Linked DNA regions of Homo sapiens: region 2 is linked to region 1. Evidence: fine-mapped expression QTL. A gene starts in region 1. The other region holds a variant in brackets. All regions are shown on one strand. Distances are from middle to middle. Region 1 holds the start of HCN2 (hyperpolarization activated cyclic nucleotide gated potassium and sodium channel 2). Region 2 holds the start of LOC107987266 (a long non-coding RNA gene).

Region 1 (8,416 bases):
TTTTTTTATTTTTTTGAGACAGGGTCTCACTCTGTTTCCCGGGCCGGAGTGCAGTGGCACGATCATAGCTCACTGCAGCCTCAACCTCCTGGGCTCAGGTGATCCTCCCGCCTCAGCCTCCAGAGTAGCTGGGACTACAGGTGCACGCCACCACGCCTGGCTAATTTTTTAACTTTTTGTAGAGATGGGGGTCTTGCTATGTTGCCCAGGCTGGTCTCGAACTCCTGGGCTCAAGCGATCCTCCCGCCTCCGCCTCCCAAAGTACTGGCATTACAGGCATGAGCCACAGTGCCTGGACAAAGATGTCCGTTTTCGAGCAGGGAACATAGGGAAGGCCCTGAAGAGAGCGGGGAGGCCTTGGCCACCCCGACCCCTGACCCCTCCACGCAGACCAGAGGGCAGGCCACCGCCACCTGGGATATGGGTCCATGCACACCCCACCATCCTGCACACGCTGGGCCTTCCTGCCGTGACCAGAGCCAGACAAACCCTCGCCTCGCCCTGCCCCCGGGGCCATCCCCCCAGGATAATGGGGGGTTTATTCCCACGCCCTAATGCTGGGATTCATCACTGCGGATTTGCAGAGCTGCACCCCCAGGCTGATCTCCCGCTGACCCACTCAGCCATCTGAGGCGGGGCCCAGGGGCCGCCTGTCCTGGTGGGGTCTTGGAGCAGCTCCTCCCCGACCAGTCCTCTCGGGGACCCCAGGGGACATAACAGATCCTGGCTTTGGGGAGCATCTCGTCTGTCTCCCCTCACACGGGGCCTCCCCAGCTGAAGACAATTCAGAAACACAGACCTGCAAGTCAGCAGCAGCAGGAGACGGCAGGGCGGCCACAGGGCACTTAGCCCTGGAACTGGACCGAGGGCAGTCAGGAAGCCGCCAGCCTCTCTCCACCCGACACCTGCCCTGTGCCCCCCAGAGCTCCCAGGGCACAAACCCCGGATCTGCCCAGGTCTCCACCCCGCCAGGTCTGCCCAGCCCCCTCGGTGACACCGGGGGCAGGGAGGGTGGATGACAGCAAGCTTCGGAGAACGCGACCTCCTCAGACCGCCCCTCCCTGGGCCTTCGTGTCCCCTCCAGCCCCAGCCCCTCTCCTGCGGAGACACCCTCCAGCCCCAGCCCTTCTCGTGCAGAGACCTCCAGCCCCTGCCCCTCTCCTGCGGAGACACCCTCCTTTGCACGACTCAGGCTTTCCCAAGTGGACCTGTGTGGCCTTTAGAATCAGCGGCGGCTGGGGTGAAGGGAGTAGGAATGAACTATACTTATTTTTGACCTAATTTTGCTCTGGGAGGCACAGAAGACCCTGCCGAAGCCCTGGGGGTTGCATAAGGCCAAACCCCTTCCTTCTTGGTTTTCACGCCTGTTCCAATTCAGGCACCAACCGTGATCACCTACAAGGAAGGGAACTTGAGCCTCTGGAACCCAAAACCTTGAACTTGGGTCCTTGAACTTGCTCTTCCACCAGCACCCCAGGGAAGCGCCCAGCATGCCTCTGGGGACTTTCAGACGTCAGGCCGGGGTGTAGAGCCACCCACAGCCCCAGAGACTTCAGCAATAGACCAACTGCACTTCTTCTTCCTTTTCTTTTTTTTTGAGACCAAGTCCCACTCTGTCAGCCAGGCTGGAGTGCAGCAGCGCGATCTCGGCTCACTGCAACCTCTGCCTCCTGGATTCAAGTGATTCTCCTGCCTCAGCCTCCCGAGTAGCTGGGATTACAGGCGCTCGTCACGATGCCCAGCTAATTTTTGCATTTTTAGTAGAGACGGGATCATCTCACCATGTTGGCCAGGCTGCTCTCGAACTCCTGACCTCAGGTGATCCGCCCGCCTCAGCCTCCCAAAGTGCTGGGATCTCAGGCGTGAGCCGCTGCACCCTGGCACCAACTGCACTTCCAAAGGGGCCAGCCGCCCAGGCCTGAGAGCCGAAATCTGGACCCACGTCAGCCCAGGACCCATGCTCTGCCCCTCAGAAAATTCAGCAAATATGTGGCACCTGCTGTATACTGGGACTGGGACGTGGGGCGTGAAAGAGGCCACTTCCGAGCACGGGAGCAGGGTGGACTTGGGCGTGGCGGAGACAGCTGGGCAGCGAGGAAGAACCGGGGTGAGGGCGTGCCTGGGGGGCACAGGCTGGGCAAGGAGCACAGCACTCTCTCAGCAGGAAGGGGAGGTGAAGAGAGTGTGAGACGTGAGGCTGAGACACTGGCAAGGCTGTGAAAGACCCCATCCTTCTCCCTCATACCATCCCCACCGTGCAATTGGGGAAACTGAGGCAGAGGGGCCCAGCGAGGACCCAAGACACCCAGCCAGGCACAGGAGGCCTTGGGCCCGAAGCCAGTTGGGGCCAGGCTCCTGAGTCAGCTGCAAACGTAGAGGCCCCTTCGCTTGCTGTGGGCTGCCCCAAAACACCCTCCACAGCAGGGTCCGGCCGCCTGCTTAGGGAGCTTTTGAGATATTCTTGGGGGTCTTTTTCCACACTGATTCCACACTGGCACAGGTCCCAAGCCTGGGGAGGGTCCTAGGGGCCCCGTGCACCCAGCTTGGCAACATCGAAATCCTTTTTTAAAATCTGACTGCCGTGACTCCCCTAGTCCCGAAGACAGGCCCCGCTAACCCCATTCCCTGCCTGCTCAGTTCCACTTCAACACTCATCTGCCGGGGTGGGGCTGCACTTGGTCCACACAGGGGCCTCTGAGCCCTCTATGCCTCAGAGCACAGAGCGGGGCCACAGCCTGCCCAGGCCTCCAGGCGACCACGCCCAAGGAGGGTGGAAGGATGAGAGGGCTTCACTCCTACCACCGGCCTTCCCCCCAAGCCCCGGGATCAGCCATCTGCCCACCTGCCCCCCAGGCCACCGACCGCCCCTCTGCAGCCAGGGGGTCGCTGGAGCTGCCCAGGGGAGGGAGTGGCTGGTGTGGGCCTCCACCTGCCAGCCCCCACGCTGCGGTGCACCCATCTCTGTCGAAGGTCATGCTGGAGGGGACGGAGGGGAGTGGGCACGTTCTACAGCTCCCTCTCCACCGCGTCCCTCTCCGGTCAGGGGGTGCCACTGCCCGACTGGAAGTGGGGCCAGGCCGACCAGCAGCCCTGGAAGTCCAGTCCTTCCCGCTCACTGTCCACATTTCGCAGGCCAGAGCCCAGATGCTGACCAAGCTCTCCCGGTGGGGCACAGAGGCAGGGTGGGAGGGGCCGGACACAGCCCCTCTGGGGATTTCGGGGCTCCTCCCACCCCTGGCCTGTCTCGAAATCCAGGCTTCTGGTCAAAGCTGTATTCACCTCTCAGGAAGGCCTGGGGTGGGAGGAGGATTCCAGGGCCTTCCTCCAGGCTCTGTCCAGGACGCATGTGCCCCAGGCCTCAGTTTCTCCAGTCAAGCACTAGGGGTGCAGAGAATCCAGGGGAAGAGAGAACCCCACAGCCTCCCTGCCCAGTTCCGGGGGTCCAGGGTCCGTGGGGGCTGTCCTGGGGCGCCCAGGCCTGGAGGAGGAGAGACAGGCGGGAAAACCGCAGGCTTCCCAGGTCCGGCGCGCTGTCCGTGGTGCTGAAACCGCGCCCGTCCCGCGCGCCCGGCCTCGCTAGCCCGGCGGGCCCCACCTACACCCTCCACCTGCACCCTCCACACCCCACCTCACACCCCACTCGTGGATACACAAACACACACGCATCCCTCCATGGTCGCGTGTGTGAGACCTGCCTGCGGCTCACACTACTGCCCACCGGTGCACACCGGCCCCGGGCGTACACGCGCACGCCCGCCACCTGGTCCCAACACACACAAACCACACGTCCCACCAAAATAAACCCACCGGAGGCGCACACGCCCGCGACCACCACGCAAACACACTCCTGGAGACACACCTCTCCGGCCACAGGCTCGCGCCCCGGGAACCCCGCCGCGGTCACGGGCCCCTGTTCACACACAGCCCACGGGGACACGCGCCGGTCTCGCTCTCCGGCCACAGCACGCACAGCCCAGGAACCACGACCGCAAACATCAGTGGCGGTGGCCCCGCGCCGGCCCTGCTCCGAGCCTTCCACGCATTAGCCGGCTGGATCCACAGCGGCGTCTACACACCCACCGCCGCATGCGCGCACCGCCCGCGGCTCGGGTGGAGCGGCTCCCGGGGACACAGCCTGGGGACCCGCACGCTTTCCAGGCCCGCGGCCCCGGGCGCGCCTCCTCGCAGGCGGGGCGCGGGTGGACGCCGTGGGAGCCGCTTAACCCCCTCTCCCCCGGCCTCCCTGGGGCGCGTCCTTCCCGGGCGCCCTTCGTTCCTCCTCCCTCCCGCTCCGCCGCCTCTCTGGGGCCCACGTTCCCCTCTATTCGTCCTCTCTGCCCCTCTGCGCTCAGACCCTGGCCCTGCGGCCCACCCCACCCGCCGCGCCGCAGGGCGGAGGATGTCGGGGTGCGTGGGAGGGGGGCGCTCCGCGGTCACCCGGGGAGCCCCCCCAGAGGCGGAGCCTCGCGCGCCGGGGTCACTCCGGGGCGGGTCCCGGACACGCCCGAGGTCACCGAGGAGCCCCGAGGTCACCGGCCCGGCGCGCCGCCCCGCCCTCCCCAGGCGCTCCAAGGACGGCTCCCCGCGCGCCCGGCTCCCCGGGCCCCCTCGCGCCGACCGGCCCTCCCGGAGGCGGTACCTGAAGTCGCTGTACGGGTGGATGATCCAGGCCCCCGCCGACTTGACGCGCTCCTGCTCGCGCTCCACGGCCTTCTGGCTGCCGAACATCCGCAGCGAGAACTTGTTGACGCCCGGCTGCAGGAGCGCGCCGAACTGGCGCTGCATGAAGCTGGCCTGGCTGCCGCGCGGCTCCCCCGCCGGGCCCGCCTCCTCGCTGCCCGCCTCCTCCGCCGGCCCCGGCCCCGGCGCGGGCCCCGAGGCCGCCCCGCGGCACGAGAACGACACCTTGGGCCCCCGCGCCGGGCCCTCGGGCCCCGCGGGGCTGCACTGCGGCTCGCCGCGCCCGCACTCGCCGTTCGGGCTGCCCTTGGCCGTGCTCGCCGCGCCCGGGGTGCCGGGGCGGCCGCACGAGCTGTCGCGGCTGCGGAGCCGGCCCCGCGGGCCGCCCTCATCCGCCGCCTCCGGGGGCAACGCCTCGGCCCGGGGCGGGTGCTGGGGGGGCGCGGGCCCGGGGCCCGGGGGGGGCGCGGGCGGCGGCGGCGGCGGCGGCTGCTGTTGGGGGGGCGCGGGCGGCGGCGGCGGCGGCGGCCCCGGCGCGGGGGTCGCGCCCGGGCTCTCCCCGGGCCGCCCGCCGCCCCCGCGCGCGTCCATGGCGAGGCGGCGCCGGGCAGTGCGGAGCGGAGCCGCCGCCGCCGCCGCCGGCCGGAGCCCGAGGGAGGGGGGAGGCGGGGGCGGGGCGGGGCGGAGCCGCGGGGGGCGGAGCCTCGCGGCGGGGGAGGGGCGGGGGAGGGGCGGGGGCGGGAGACCCGCCTCGGCTGCGCCCCCTCCCCGCGCGCCGCCTCCGCTCGGCGCCGGGAAACTCGGGCCGCGGGGTCGGGGGCGCCCCAAGGTCACGCGGCCCGAGGCCTCGGAGCCCCGCGCGGGCCTCTCCCCAGGAGGGGAAACTGAGGCCCGCGACGTGTAAGGACGCGCCCAAGGTCACCGGGCCCCGCTGCCCGGCCGGAGCCGCCTCTCCTGCGCCGCGGCTTCCACCTCTGTCCGGAGGGCACCGGCGCGGGGAGGGTGGACGCGGGCCTGGGAGACGGGAGAGGCCGCCACGGCCAGCGCCTCCTTGCTTTCTGTGAGGTTTGAAGACTTCCACGACGAAAGGGTGTTTCTAAAGGTCACAGGAGCCCTTGCTGGGTCGCCTGTGGGCCCTGGACAGAGACCCTTGAGTGCGTGGGGAGGGGCAGGCCGGCTTGGGCGCCGTTCTGGGAGACTCAGGCACTCCTCTCCCTGGTCTGCATTTGAGGAAACTGAGGCCAAGCCCAGCCAGACAAGGAAAACTGGAAAAGCCACCCGAGGGTGTGGGGTTCCCACCCACCCCTCAAACAGTGCCCTGGGGAGCCGTGCGGCGGGGGTCTCCTCTAGGTCTGGTGGGCTTTAGATTGGGGTCACAGGGAGACCCAAAGCCCACTAGCGCCTTCGCACGGGTACCAGAGCCCCCTGCCCCGGGGTTGCCTCCTTTCCCCGACCCCTCGGACTCCGGGTGCAGCTGTGCCCCCAGTGCCTCCAGTCCCCAGCTCTGAGACAGGTGCTTCCCAAGGCTCTGCTTCTGGGCCGAAGCCGGCTGGGCGTGGGTGCTGCTTGGTGCCAGGTGACATGAGGCCTCTGTCCCTAGCCACCCAGCCCACCAGACAGCCGGGAGGGGGCAGGTGAGGAAGCTGGCAAGTGAGAGAGAGGAGACAGACAGTCACACTCGAAGAAGTGGAGGCTGAACATCCCCACCTGGAGGCAGGAGGCCCTCCTGGGACCCTCCTGGCACCTGGCCTGACGTCCTCTCAGCCACGATGTCCCGTGTGCCGGGTGCCCCCCACCCATCTGCACCTCGAGGCCACCGGGGCAGAGATGGCCCTCTTCCTACACCCAGGAGGCACTCAGTGGTACTTGAGGGAGGGCCAGCATGTGCCCGGCTGACAGTGGATGGGCTGAGCCCGACCGTGTCTCTCGCCTCGGCCTGGCTGCCCCACACCCTGGGGATCCCTGCGCCCCCACGCCGGCCCCGCCGGCCACCTCCGCATAGGCGGGCAGGACAGCTGTTTGTCCCAAGGTGGTGCGGGAGAGGCCGGGCGGGCGGCACAGTTGGCAGTGCCAGGCTGTGGCCCGCCCCGAGGCAGATGCGTGCTCCAGCTGAAGGGGGTTCTTTTATGTTCACCCTGGGAAGATGTCAGGCCGGGCAGGTCGCCAGAGCCCCAGGGCTCGCGGCTGGGAGCAGGGAGGAGGCGGGACCCGCACGGCACGAGAACCGCCCATGCCTGGCAGTGGGAGAAGCAGAAAGACGCCTCCTGCAGGCGCCGGCAGAACCCGCAAGTCACAAGGGAGGCTGTGGCTCGGGGTCCTTGTCACCAGATCCTGGCGACGGCTCTGCAGCCCACAGGCTTACCCAGGCCAGCGCCTGTCAGTGTGCACGGGGACCCTCCCTGGCCTCGGCACACTCACTCTGACCCCTTGCCCAGGCCGGAGTACTCTGTATTTATCTGTTTATTTATGTATTTATTTATTTTTGAGTTGGAGTCTCGCTCTGTCGCCGCCCAGGCTGGAGTGCAGTGACGTGACCTCGGCTCACTGCAACCTCCGACTCCCGGGTTTAAGCGATTCTCCTGCCTCAGCCTCCGGAGTAGCTGGGATTACAGGCGCCTGCCACCACGCTCGGCTAATTATTGTATTTTTAGTAGAGACAGGGTTTCGCCATGTTGGGCCAGGCTGGTCTCCAACTGCTGACCTCAGGTGACCCACCCGCCTCGGCCTCCCAAAGTGCTGGAATTACAAGTGTGAGCCACCCCCCCAGCCATGCTCATTTATTTTAATTTAAAAAATATTTAAAGATTGAGACCAGCCTGGCCAACATGGTGAAACCCCATCTCTACTAAAAATACAAAAATTAGCCAGGCGTGGTGGTGGGCGCCTGTAATCCCAGCTACTTGGGAGGCTGAGGCAGGAGAGTCGCTTGAACTCAGGAGCCAGATGGTGCAGTGAGCTGAGATCACACCATTGCACTCCAGCGCTTGGTGATAGAGCAAGACTCCGTCTCAGAAAAAAAAAAAAAAAAAAGCCGGGCGCGGTGGCTCACGCCTGTAATCCCAGCACTTTGGGAGGCCGAGGCAGGCGGATCAGTTGAGGTCAGGAGTTCGAGACCATCGTGGCCAACATAGCAAAACCCTGTTTCTAATAAAAAATATAAAAATTAGCCGGATGTGGTGGCACATGCCTGTAATCTCAGCTACTCAGGAGGATGAGGCAGGAGAATCGCTTGAACCTGGGAGGTGCAGCGAGTCAGGATGGCACCACTGCTCTCCAGCCTGGGTGACACAGCGAGACTCTGTCTCAAAAAAAAAAAAAAAAAAAATCAACAAAAACTTATTAAGCACCTACTCCAGGCCGAGTATTGACTCAGAGGCCAGTACAGCTGACTCAGAGAGCCAGCCAGGGGAGAAAGCTGGGTATCACAGTCAACCTTATGAGTAGCAAGTAAGATACTGTCCAGCAGAAGGTGGTGAGCATTGTCCAAACACTCAGGGTGGGGAGGGGGCCAGGTGCTGGGAGAAGGCCTGAAGGAGGGGGTGCGGCCCGGGAAGCTGCAGGAAGCTCTGGGCAGGCGGCATAGCCTGTGCGAGGGTCCTGAGGTGGGACCGCACCTGGCTTGTGTAGGGAGCATGGAGCCCCAGGGCCTGGCCCCTCAGTCAGTCACATCGGTCTGTGGCCTAAAACCACTCACAGCTCCCAGTGCCTTTGGAAGAAAGCCCGGGTCCCTCCAGCA
Region 2 (8,864 bases), 20 kb before region 1:
CATCTCGCGGTCGTACTTGACGATCTCCTGGATGATGGCGTTCTCCTGGTTGTTGAATACGCCCGAGTTGAGGTCATGCTGCACCTTGTGCAGGAGGATGGAATTCTTCTTGCCTGCGGGAGAGGGGGCGTTAGCGTGTGCACAGGGAGCGCCTGCTGCGTACAGCGGGCACCGAGCACCTACTCTGCACCGCGGGTGCGCACACAGTGCTTGCCGTGTAGAGCAAGCATGCATTTACCACCTACTGTATACAATAAGCACATATGTAGCATCTCTGGCCTATAGTATGGATATTGAGTACCTGCCATATACAGGCTGAGCACCTGCTATGCACAGCCAGCATGCATGAAGCACCTGCATACAGAAAGCAGGGCTTTTGTTTTGCTTTGTTTCTGAGACGGAGTCTTGCTCTGTCGCCCGGGCTGGAGTGCAGTGGCGCGATCTCGGCCCACTGCAAGGTCCACCTCCCGGGTTCACACCATTCTCCTGCCTCATCCTCCCGAGTAGCTGGGACTACAGGCGCCCGCCACCACACCCGGCTAATTTTTTGTATTTTTTTTTTAGTAGAGACGGGGTTTCACCATGTTAGCCAGGATGGTCTCAATCTCCTGACCTCGTGATCCACCCACCTTGGCCTCCGAAAGTGCTGGGACTACAGGCGTGAGCCACCGCGCCTGGCAGTAAACAGGTATTTAATGCCTGCTGTGTACATGGAGCAGGTATCACTGTGCACCAAGTATGCATGTGTACCACCTGTATACGCTGATTATGTAATGACTGCCTCCAGTGTGCCACAGGCATACCGAAAACACCTGCCTGTACACAGCCTGTGCTGAGCACCTGCTGTATACAGAAGTTATAACCTAAGCACCTGATACTCAGGAACGGGTTGCATACTCACTGTATAGAGCAAGTTGTGGAGAGCTTCCTACTGTACACCAGGGAGCTCCCTGACACCACTCCGTCGCACCTGTCCTGCGTTTCAGCCATGGTCTTCATTCCCATTCCCACGAACAGCAGCATGAGCCGCCATCTCTCTGGCGCCTACATCCAGTCATCAGGGCTCTGCCCCTCCCTGCCCCAGAGACTGCCCCCCTGAGAGGCCAGGTCACCGTCTCCCTCCTGGACACGGCCCGCCTTGGCGGATACAATCTGACCAGGTCCTCCGCCCACCTAGAACCCTCCATGGCTCCCTGATGCTCCTGATTTAGTCTAAACTCTCCCTGCCGCCCACTGGGCCCTGTGTGTCTGGCCTCCCCTTCTTCCCCAACCTCCTCCAGGCCTCCCTGGCTCTCTGGACTCTAGGCCTCTTTTCCACCTCAGGGCCTTGGGATGTGCTGTGTCCACTCCACGAACACATCTTCCTCCCCGTTTCCACATGGCATCCCTTACCCTGGTCTCCACTCTGCATTCCCAACTCAGGGAAGCCCACCGGCCCCACCTGCCCTGCTGGCACACAGCCCAGTCGTGTGTGATTTCATCACCAGTCCATAAGCCTCCCTGGGAGTCTGAGTGGGCCCCCGGGTCTGTCCCCTGCACCCCCAGCACACAGCAGGTGCTCACCGAGCATTCGGCACAACCGCAAACACCCTGTGCATTCCCTCCCTTGGGAAACAGGCTGCCTCTGGCTGAAGTAGGACAATAGGTCAGAAAATCAGCCTCTAGACCCAAAGGGGTCCTAGGAGCGGCCAGCCGCTGCCCCTGCCCCAGCCACGCCCCTGCTGCCATGGCCACACTCCTGATGCCTTGGCCACGTCTCTGCCCCAACCGTGCCCCTGATGCCACAGCCACGCCCTTCCCCCTGCCACTGTCCAAGCCACTCTCCTGATGCCTTGGCCACGCCCCTCCCCCGCCAGGGCACCCGCCCCGGCCACGCCCCCGGCCCGCTCACCGATGCGGTCCAGGCGGTCGATGGCCACCGTCTCGAAGGCGCGCCGCATCATGGGGTACTCCTCCAGCACCTCGTTGAAGTTGTCCACGCTCAGCGAATAGAGGCGGCAGTAGGTGTCAGCCCGCACGCTCGCCGTGCGGCGGCCCCGGGTGAGCAGGCAGATCTCTGCACGTGGCGCGCAGGGGGGGGTTGCTGGACGAGGCGGGCGCCGCGGCCCTCCCCGCCCAGGCACACGGCCCGGCCTCTGCACCTTGGCCAGCGTGGGCGCTTCCCACCCAGGCTCTCCCTGGTGCCGGCCCCGGCCCCATCCCCGGCCCCATCCCCGGCCCCATCCCCGGCCCCATCCCCATCCCCGGCCCCATCCCCATCCCCATCCCCGGCCCCATCCCCATCCCCATCCCCATCCCCGGCCCCATCCCCATCCCCATCCCCATCCCCGGCCCCGGCCCCGGCCCCGGCCCCCTGGCTCTGCACACCGCGGGGGTCGCGTGCCCCCTCCCCCTCCAGGCGCGCCCCCCTCAAGCTCACCCCCGAAGTAGGAGCCATCGGACAGCTTCATCTCCTTGTTGCCCTTAGTGAGCACGCTGACCACGCCGTGCTGGATGAAGTACATCTTCTTCCCGATGGTGCCTTCGCGGATGATGTAGTCACCCGGCTGGAAGACCTCGAACTTGAGCTTGGTCAGCATGGCCGTGACGAAGTTGGGGTCGGCGTTGGCGAACAGCGGCATGGAGGCCACCAGCTTCCGGCAGTTGAAGTTGACGATCTCCTGCAGGGGGGAGGCAGGGCTGGGTCCGCTGCGGACCCCACTCCCGCTTCCCCCTCGCCCTGCCTCTGGGACCGGCTCACCTCTCGGACCCCAGTTTCCTCGTCTGAGAGACGGGCTCAGCCCCGTAGCCGGAACCGAGCTGCTGCCGCCAAGGACGGGAGAAAGAAAAAACGCTCAGTGCCCCTTCGCCGTTTGACACCGTATTGGCGACATCTGCCAATACAATCGGACCAGGAGGGGCGGCTGTAGACAAGAGCGGTGGAAAGGAGGCCGGGTGCGGGGGCTCACGCGTGTGATCTCAGCATTTGCGGAGGCCGAGGCGGGAGGATCGCTTGAGCCCAGGAGTTCTAGACCAGCCTGGGCAACACGGTAAGACCCCCGTCTCTACCGGAAAAAAAAAAAACAGCCAGGCGTGGTGGTGCAGGAAGTCGAGGCTGCAGTGAGCCGTGATCCCCACACCACTGCCCTCCAGCCTGAGCGCAGAACAAGACCCTGACTCAAAAAAAAAAAAAAAGAAAATGGGGGAAAAATAAGGCCGGGCGTGGTGGCTCACACCTGTAATCCCAGCACTCTGGGAGGCCAAGGTGGGTGGATCGCCTGATGTCAGGAGTTCGAGACCAGCCTGGCCAACATGGTGAAACCCCATCTCTACTAAAAATACAAAAAATTAGCTGGGTGTGGTGGCGGGTGCCTGTAATCCCAGCTACTCGGGAGGCTGAGGCACGAGTCTCTTGAACCCGGGAGGAGGAGGTTACAGTGAACCAAGATCACACAACTGCACTGGAGCCCGGGTGACAGAGCGAGACTCCATCTCTCTCTCACACACACACACACACACACACACACACACACACCAGTGGAAAGCTACATTCGGTCAGACTATCAGGTGATTTTTGAAAAATCAACATGAAAACCAAGGGTCTGGAGATGAATCAATGGTGTGGGAAGTCAGGGCAATTCCCCTTAGCAAAGGCAGCTTCTAAGGACGGCAGGAACGTTCCAGCTTCGTTCTGTGTGGTGGTTACACCACGTTCCCTTTAGGGACCAGCTATCGAGCTGTGCCCTTATGACCTGGGGCACTTTTTGGTACTTTTTTTTTTTTTGAGACGGAGTCTCGCTCTGTTGTCCAGGCTGGAGTGCAGTGGCACAATCTCGGCTCACTGCAACCGCCGCCTCCTGGGTTCAAGCGATTCTCCTGTCTCAGCCTCCAGAGTAGCTGGGATTACAGGCGCCCACCACCACGCCCGGCTAATTTTGTATTTTTAGTGGAGACGGGGCTTCACCATGTTGGCCAGGCTGGTCTCGAACTCCTGACCTCAGGTGATCTGCCCGTCTCGGCCTCTGAAAGTGCTGGGATTACAGGCGTGAGCCACCACGCCTGGCCATATGTGGGTTTAAAGATTTGACTTTGCAACTCCTAAACACCTAAATAATGACTAAGTAGCGTGGGTTGCCAGGGGCTGGGGACGGGGAGTGAGCTGGTGACTAACACCCCAGGTCTCCTTTTGGGCCCATGAGAATGTTCTGGAGTGAGGCTGTGGTATCGGGTGCAGCACTCTGTTAATACTAAAAGCCACCGCATTTTATGCATTTTGTGGTCTGAGTGTTATATCTCTACAAATGAATGAATGGAAACCGTAGTCATCAAATGCAATTAAACATTCTTGGCGAAGCGAACCGCAGTGTGTGCCTCCTGGGAGCAACGGGTGTACACGCCCCCCCAGAGGCATTCCCGGGGCCCGAGGTCCCTAGTGTCAGGCCCGTCCTGCCCGCCTCCTCGCCCAGCTCCTCCAGCCCCTCCTCGGGGCCTCTGCCCGAGCCAGGTGCTACACCGGGGACACCCTGCCTGGCTCACACACGGCCTTGCTGATGTCGCCTCCCCGTCCTCGTCCCTCCCCGCTTCCCAGAGCTGCTCTCTGCTGCCTGCGTGATCACGGCCGCCATCCCTAGGCCCCGCTTCCTGAGGGTGGGACCTTCAAGCACACGGCAGGGCACGCAGTCGGCGCTCAATAACTGTTTGATGTGTGTTGTGGGTTGAACTACATCTCCCAGAAAGACAGGCTGACATCCTGACCCCCGGTTCCTGTGAATAGGACCTTATGTGGAAATAGGGTCTCTGCAGACATGGCCCAGTTAAGGCGAGGCCACGAGGAACCGGGTGGGCCCTGATCCAACGACGGATGAATTTACAAGAAGAGACAGAGACACACAGGGGAGAAGGCTGTGAGCAGATGGAGGCAGAGATCAGGGAGATCAATCTGCAAGCCAAGGGCGCCTGGAGCCCCAGACGCCGGAAGAGGCAGGAAGGATCCTCCCCAGGGGCTCCGGGGGGGTAGCACGGCCCGGCCCACGCCTTGATGTTGGGCTTCCGGCCTCCAGGACGGTGGGAGGCCGAATCTCCGCTGTTCAAGCCACTCAGCCTGTGGGTATTTGTTCCCGCAACCCTGGGAAACTTGCCCAGGGTCACTCAGGCTACCGGAACAGAGCTGGGAGTTAAACCCGCTCCAATCAGCCTCAGTGCCCCCAGGACCTGGTGCTCAGCGGGGCCTCTGCGGCTCCTCCCTCCCCACCCCCTGCCCTGCTTCTGCCCCGCCCTGTCAGG[C/T]ACAGACCCAGGCAGTTCTGCTAAGGGGGCAGCGGGAAGCAAGGCGGGGGTGGCGGGGGTCCTGGGGGTGCAGAGGCTCACGGGGCGGGGAGGGGAGGGTGTGTACGCAGGTCTAGCTCGAGTCCCTCCTGCTGCAGCCTAGGCACCTCGCCTCCCTCAGGGACCGGCTCCTGGGCTCCAGGAGAGGGAGGCCGGCCCTGTACCGGAGGCTGCCTCCCGCCCGCCCGGCGCCCGCCTCACCTCCCGCAGGGGCCCGTTGAGCTCGCCCAGGATGCTGTCCTCGTCAAACATCTTGCCCTGGTAACGGTGCTCATAGTAGTCGTGGATCTTCTGGCGGAAGTCAGCTGGCAGCTTGTGGAAGGACATGTACTGCTCCACCTGCTTGTACTGTGGGGAGGAGGCGAGGCTGGGTCAGACACCGCCCCCGGCCTGCAGCGGGCACAGGGGCACCTGCTTGTACTGTGGGGAGGCGAGGCTGGGTCAGACACCGCCCCCAGCCTGCAGCGGGCACACGGGCACCTGCTTGTGGGTCAGACAGCCCCCCGGCCTGTGGCGGGGAGATAGGCCTTCACACCTGCTTGTACTGTGGGGGGTCAGGGCTGGGTCAGACAAAGCCCCCGCCCACAGCGGGGAGACAGGCCTCCGCCACACACAGGGGCGGCCAGATTCAACAAGAGCAAATAAACATGCTTCTATTTAAATCAAAGTTGAATTCGTTTCAATGATAAATTCCATTTTTTTTTTCTGAGACACTGTCTCGCTCTGTGGCCCACGCTGGAGTGCAGTGGTGCAATCACAGCTCACTGCAGCCTCCGCCTATGGGCTCAAGCAATCCTCCCACCTCAGCCTCCTGAGTAGCAGGGACTGCAGGTGTGCGCCACCACGCCTGGCTGATTCTTTTATTTTTTGTGGAGATGAGGTCTCGCCATATTGCACAGGCTGGTCTTGAACTCCTGGGCTCAAGGGATCCTCCCACCTCGGCCTCCTGAGTAGTGGGGATTACAGGTGTGCACCACCCTGCCCTGCTAATTTTTTAATTTTTTGTAGCGATGAGGTCTCGCCGTGTTGCTCAGGCTGGTCTTAAACTCCTGACCTCAGGCGATCGGCCTGTCTCGGCCTCCCAGAGTGCCGGGATTACAGGCAGGAGCCACTGCACCAGGCCGGGTGCCCTGAACTTTATCTAGCAACCCTATCCCTGAGGAATGGGTGGGCACCTGACTCTACGAGGAGAGGCCCCAGGTACCCTGACACACAGGACCCCCTTCCCGGGGGCTCTGGCCCTTCCCTGATGATCTTTCCAGAAACCATCGGGTCAGCCCCTCCTGAGCAGGGAAGGGAGCGTGGGTGCTGGGCGGGGGTGCCAGGCCCTGCTGTCCCCAGGACGGTGCCCCCCGGCAGCTCCAGCCTCACTTCCGCCCCAGCCCCGCCCGGCCGCAGCTGCCCTGAGCTCAGCGGAACCCGTGACGGCGGGCGGGTGGTGGCACCAGCTTATGTTTGGGTGTGAGGCCCGTGGCTTCCGGACAGCAGGGCGCCTGGCACGGGGCCCAGCTGACCCAGCCAGCCACTGCTCGGGGCGCGGGAGAGGGGGGCACTTGGCTCCCAGCCAGGACCAGCCAGCCGCCTAACATGGGGAAACTGAGGCACAGAGTGGTGCATGAGGCCCAACTCCAGGGGCTGCCAATGGGGCCAATCCTAATCTCCCTCCACCCCTCCCAGCTCCCCCGTGTCCCCTCCACTGCCAAGCCTAGGATTAACCCAATGGACGCTGCAGGCCAGAGGCCGCATCTGAGCAGTGGGGCAGCCTTGCTCTCCCTGAAGCCTGGCCCTGACTGCCGGCCACCGGCGTGTCCTGAAGCAACCCCAGGCCTCTCAGACCCCGCCAGGCCCTTCCCTAACCCAGCCCCATCCTGAGCCGGCCTAGAGACCCCCAGGTGGGCCCAGCCTCCTGGCAATGCCCCTTCAGCCCGGGGGCTTCCCGATGTCCAAAGACTGACCCTGTCCTGCCCTGATCCCAACTCACCCCTTCCTGCCCAGCCTGCATCCCCTCCCCAGCCCCCGCCCCACGTCCATCTCCAGGCTCTGGACCTCCCTCCCTGTCACAGGGTCAGAGAACCTCTCACCACCGGCCGTTTCTCCTCCTAATCACAGCCACAGACCCCCAGGGTCCCCTGCTCCCCATCACGCGGTCTCTGCCCTGAGCGCGCCACTTGAAGCTGAGTGAAGGGCTGAGACTGCCTCTCCCCTCAGACCCCGGGGCCGGGCCCGCCCCTCCCCTCAGACCCCGGGACAAGGACTACCTCCGCCCTCAGACCCCAGGGCAAGGCCTCCCTCCAGCCTCAGACCCCAGGACCGGGCCTGCCTCCCTCCATCAGACCCCAGGGCCTGGCCTGACTCTCTCTCAGACCCCAGATCCAGGCCCGCCTCCCCCATCAGAACCCAGGCCGGGGCCCGCCTCCCTCAGACCTTCTCCTGGTACTGGCGCCGCGAGGAGTCCAGCGACTGGATGAGGGCAGTGGCGTGGCCGATGAACATGGCGTAGCAGGTGGCACCCACAATCATGCTGAGCATGGTCAGCCAGATGTCCGTCATGCTCTCGGGCGCCTGCCGGCCGTACCCGATGCACAGCATGTGGCTCATGGCCTTGAAGAGTGCGAAGGAGTACAGTTCACTCCACGAGTGGTTCTGCAAGGCCAGCAGGAGGGGCGGTGGTGGGCAGGTGCTCACGCCCCAGGAGCCCTCGGTCCTCAAGGGCCCAGCGCCCACCCTCTGCCAAGCACTGGAGGTGGTGAGCTCCCCATGTTCAGAGGTAACCAAGAGAAATGGAGACCCAGGTAGATGACATGGTTTGCACACTTGTCACAGTGAGTTGGCAGGAGGGCCAGGGCTGATTCTACCTGCCCGCTTCACTCCTGGGGAAACTGAGACCCCAAGGGCGAGAGTCTGGGTCCCGCCTTTTGCAGCCTCTGAGATCAGAGCATCTGTGAGGTCAAGAGGGGGCAAAAGTTCCAGGGAGCATCTGGGCCAGAGCAGAGGGGCAGGGCGGGCAGAGACACCAGGCCGGCCCAGGAGGTCCTGCCGCACCAAGTCCTCAGCTGACCCGGCCGGGAAAGGGGAGCCGCGGGGCTCTGTTCAGGAAATGGGACCGCATGTGCGGGTGGCAGCCAGACAATGGGCTGCCTCAGCCTGGGCAGCTGTGCCAGGCTCTGGGGAGGGGCACTGGCGGGTCTTCCCTCTGTAGCTCCTGACCCCATCAATGCCCACCTGCTCTGTGTCCAAACCAAACACATCCCAAGTCCCATATGTGGCTGGACGCTGGGGCACAGCACTCCCCAGGCAGGGACAAAGGCTCACTGGCCACTAACCTGACTGTAGCGGCCGAGGGCTCCCATAACTAACCCTTCTTAACAGTCAGCACATCTCAGCTAGGAAGCAAGGAGTATCTGGGACCTAACTTCATTTATTATTCCTTCTTTTTTGACGGAGTTTCGCTCTTGTCGCCCAGGCTGGAGTGCAGTGGCACGATCTTGGCTCACGGCAGCCTCCGCTCCCGGGTTCAAGCGATTCTCCTGCCTTGGCCTCTCAAGTAGCTGGGATTACAGGCA

The links.
Region 2: its variant is fine-mapped to the expression of HCN2 in whole blood (TOPMed, PIP above 0.99). The same link has a PIP of 0.9 or more in blood mononuclear cells.

Annotation. Positions count from the first base shown.
Region 1 is chr19:586,801-595,216 of GRCh38, reverse strand. HCN2 (hyperpolarization activated cyclic nucleotide gated potassium and sodium channel 2) reads right to left here and starts at 5,336. Exons shown (of 8, transcript NM_001194.4): 1 at 4,640-5,336. The coding sequence starts at 5,271. It also overlaps the pseudogene LOC100420586. RefSeq lists an enhancer at 6,567-7,146.
Region 2 is chr19:607,044-615,907 of GRCh38, reverse strand. It overlaps HCN2 (hyperpolarization activated cyclic nucleotide gated potassium and sodium channel 2), which reads right to left. Exons shown (of 8, transcript NM_001194.4): 4 at 7,726-7,944; 5 at 5,503-5,649; 6 at 2,420-2,660; 7 at 1,892-2,056; 8 at 1-113. It overlaps LOC107987266 (a long non-coding RNA gene), which reads left to right and starts at 2,435. Exons shown (of 2, transcript XR_001753828.2): 1 at 2,435-3,029; 2 at 4,754-5,968. RefSeq lists a silencer at 2,388-2,569 and an enhancer at 4,689-4,998. The variant C/T (reference allele first, on the strand shown) is at 5,263.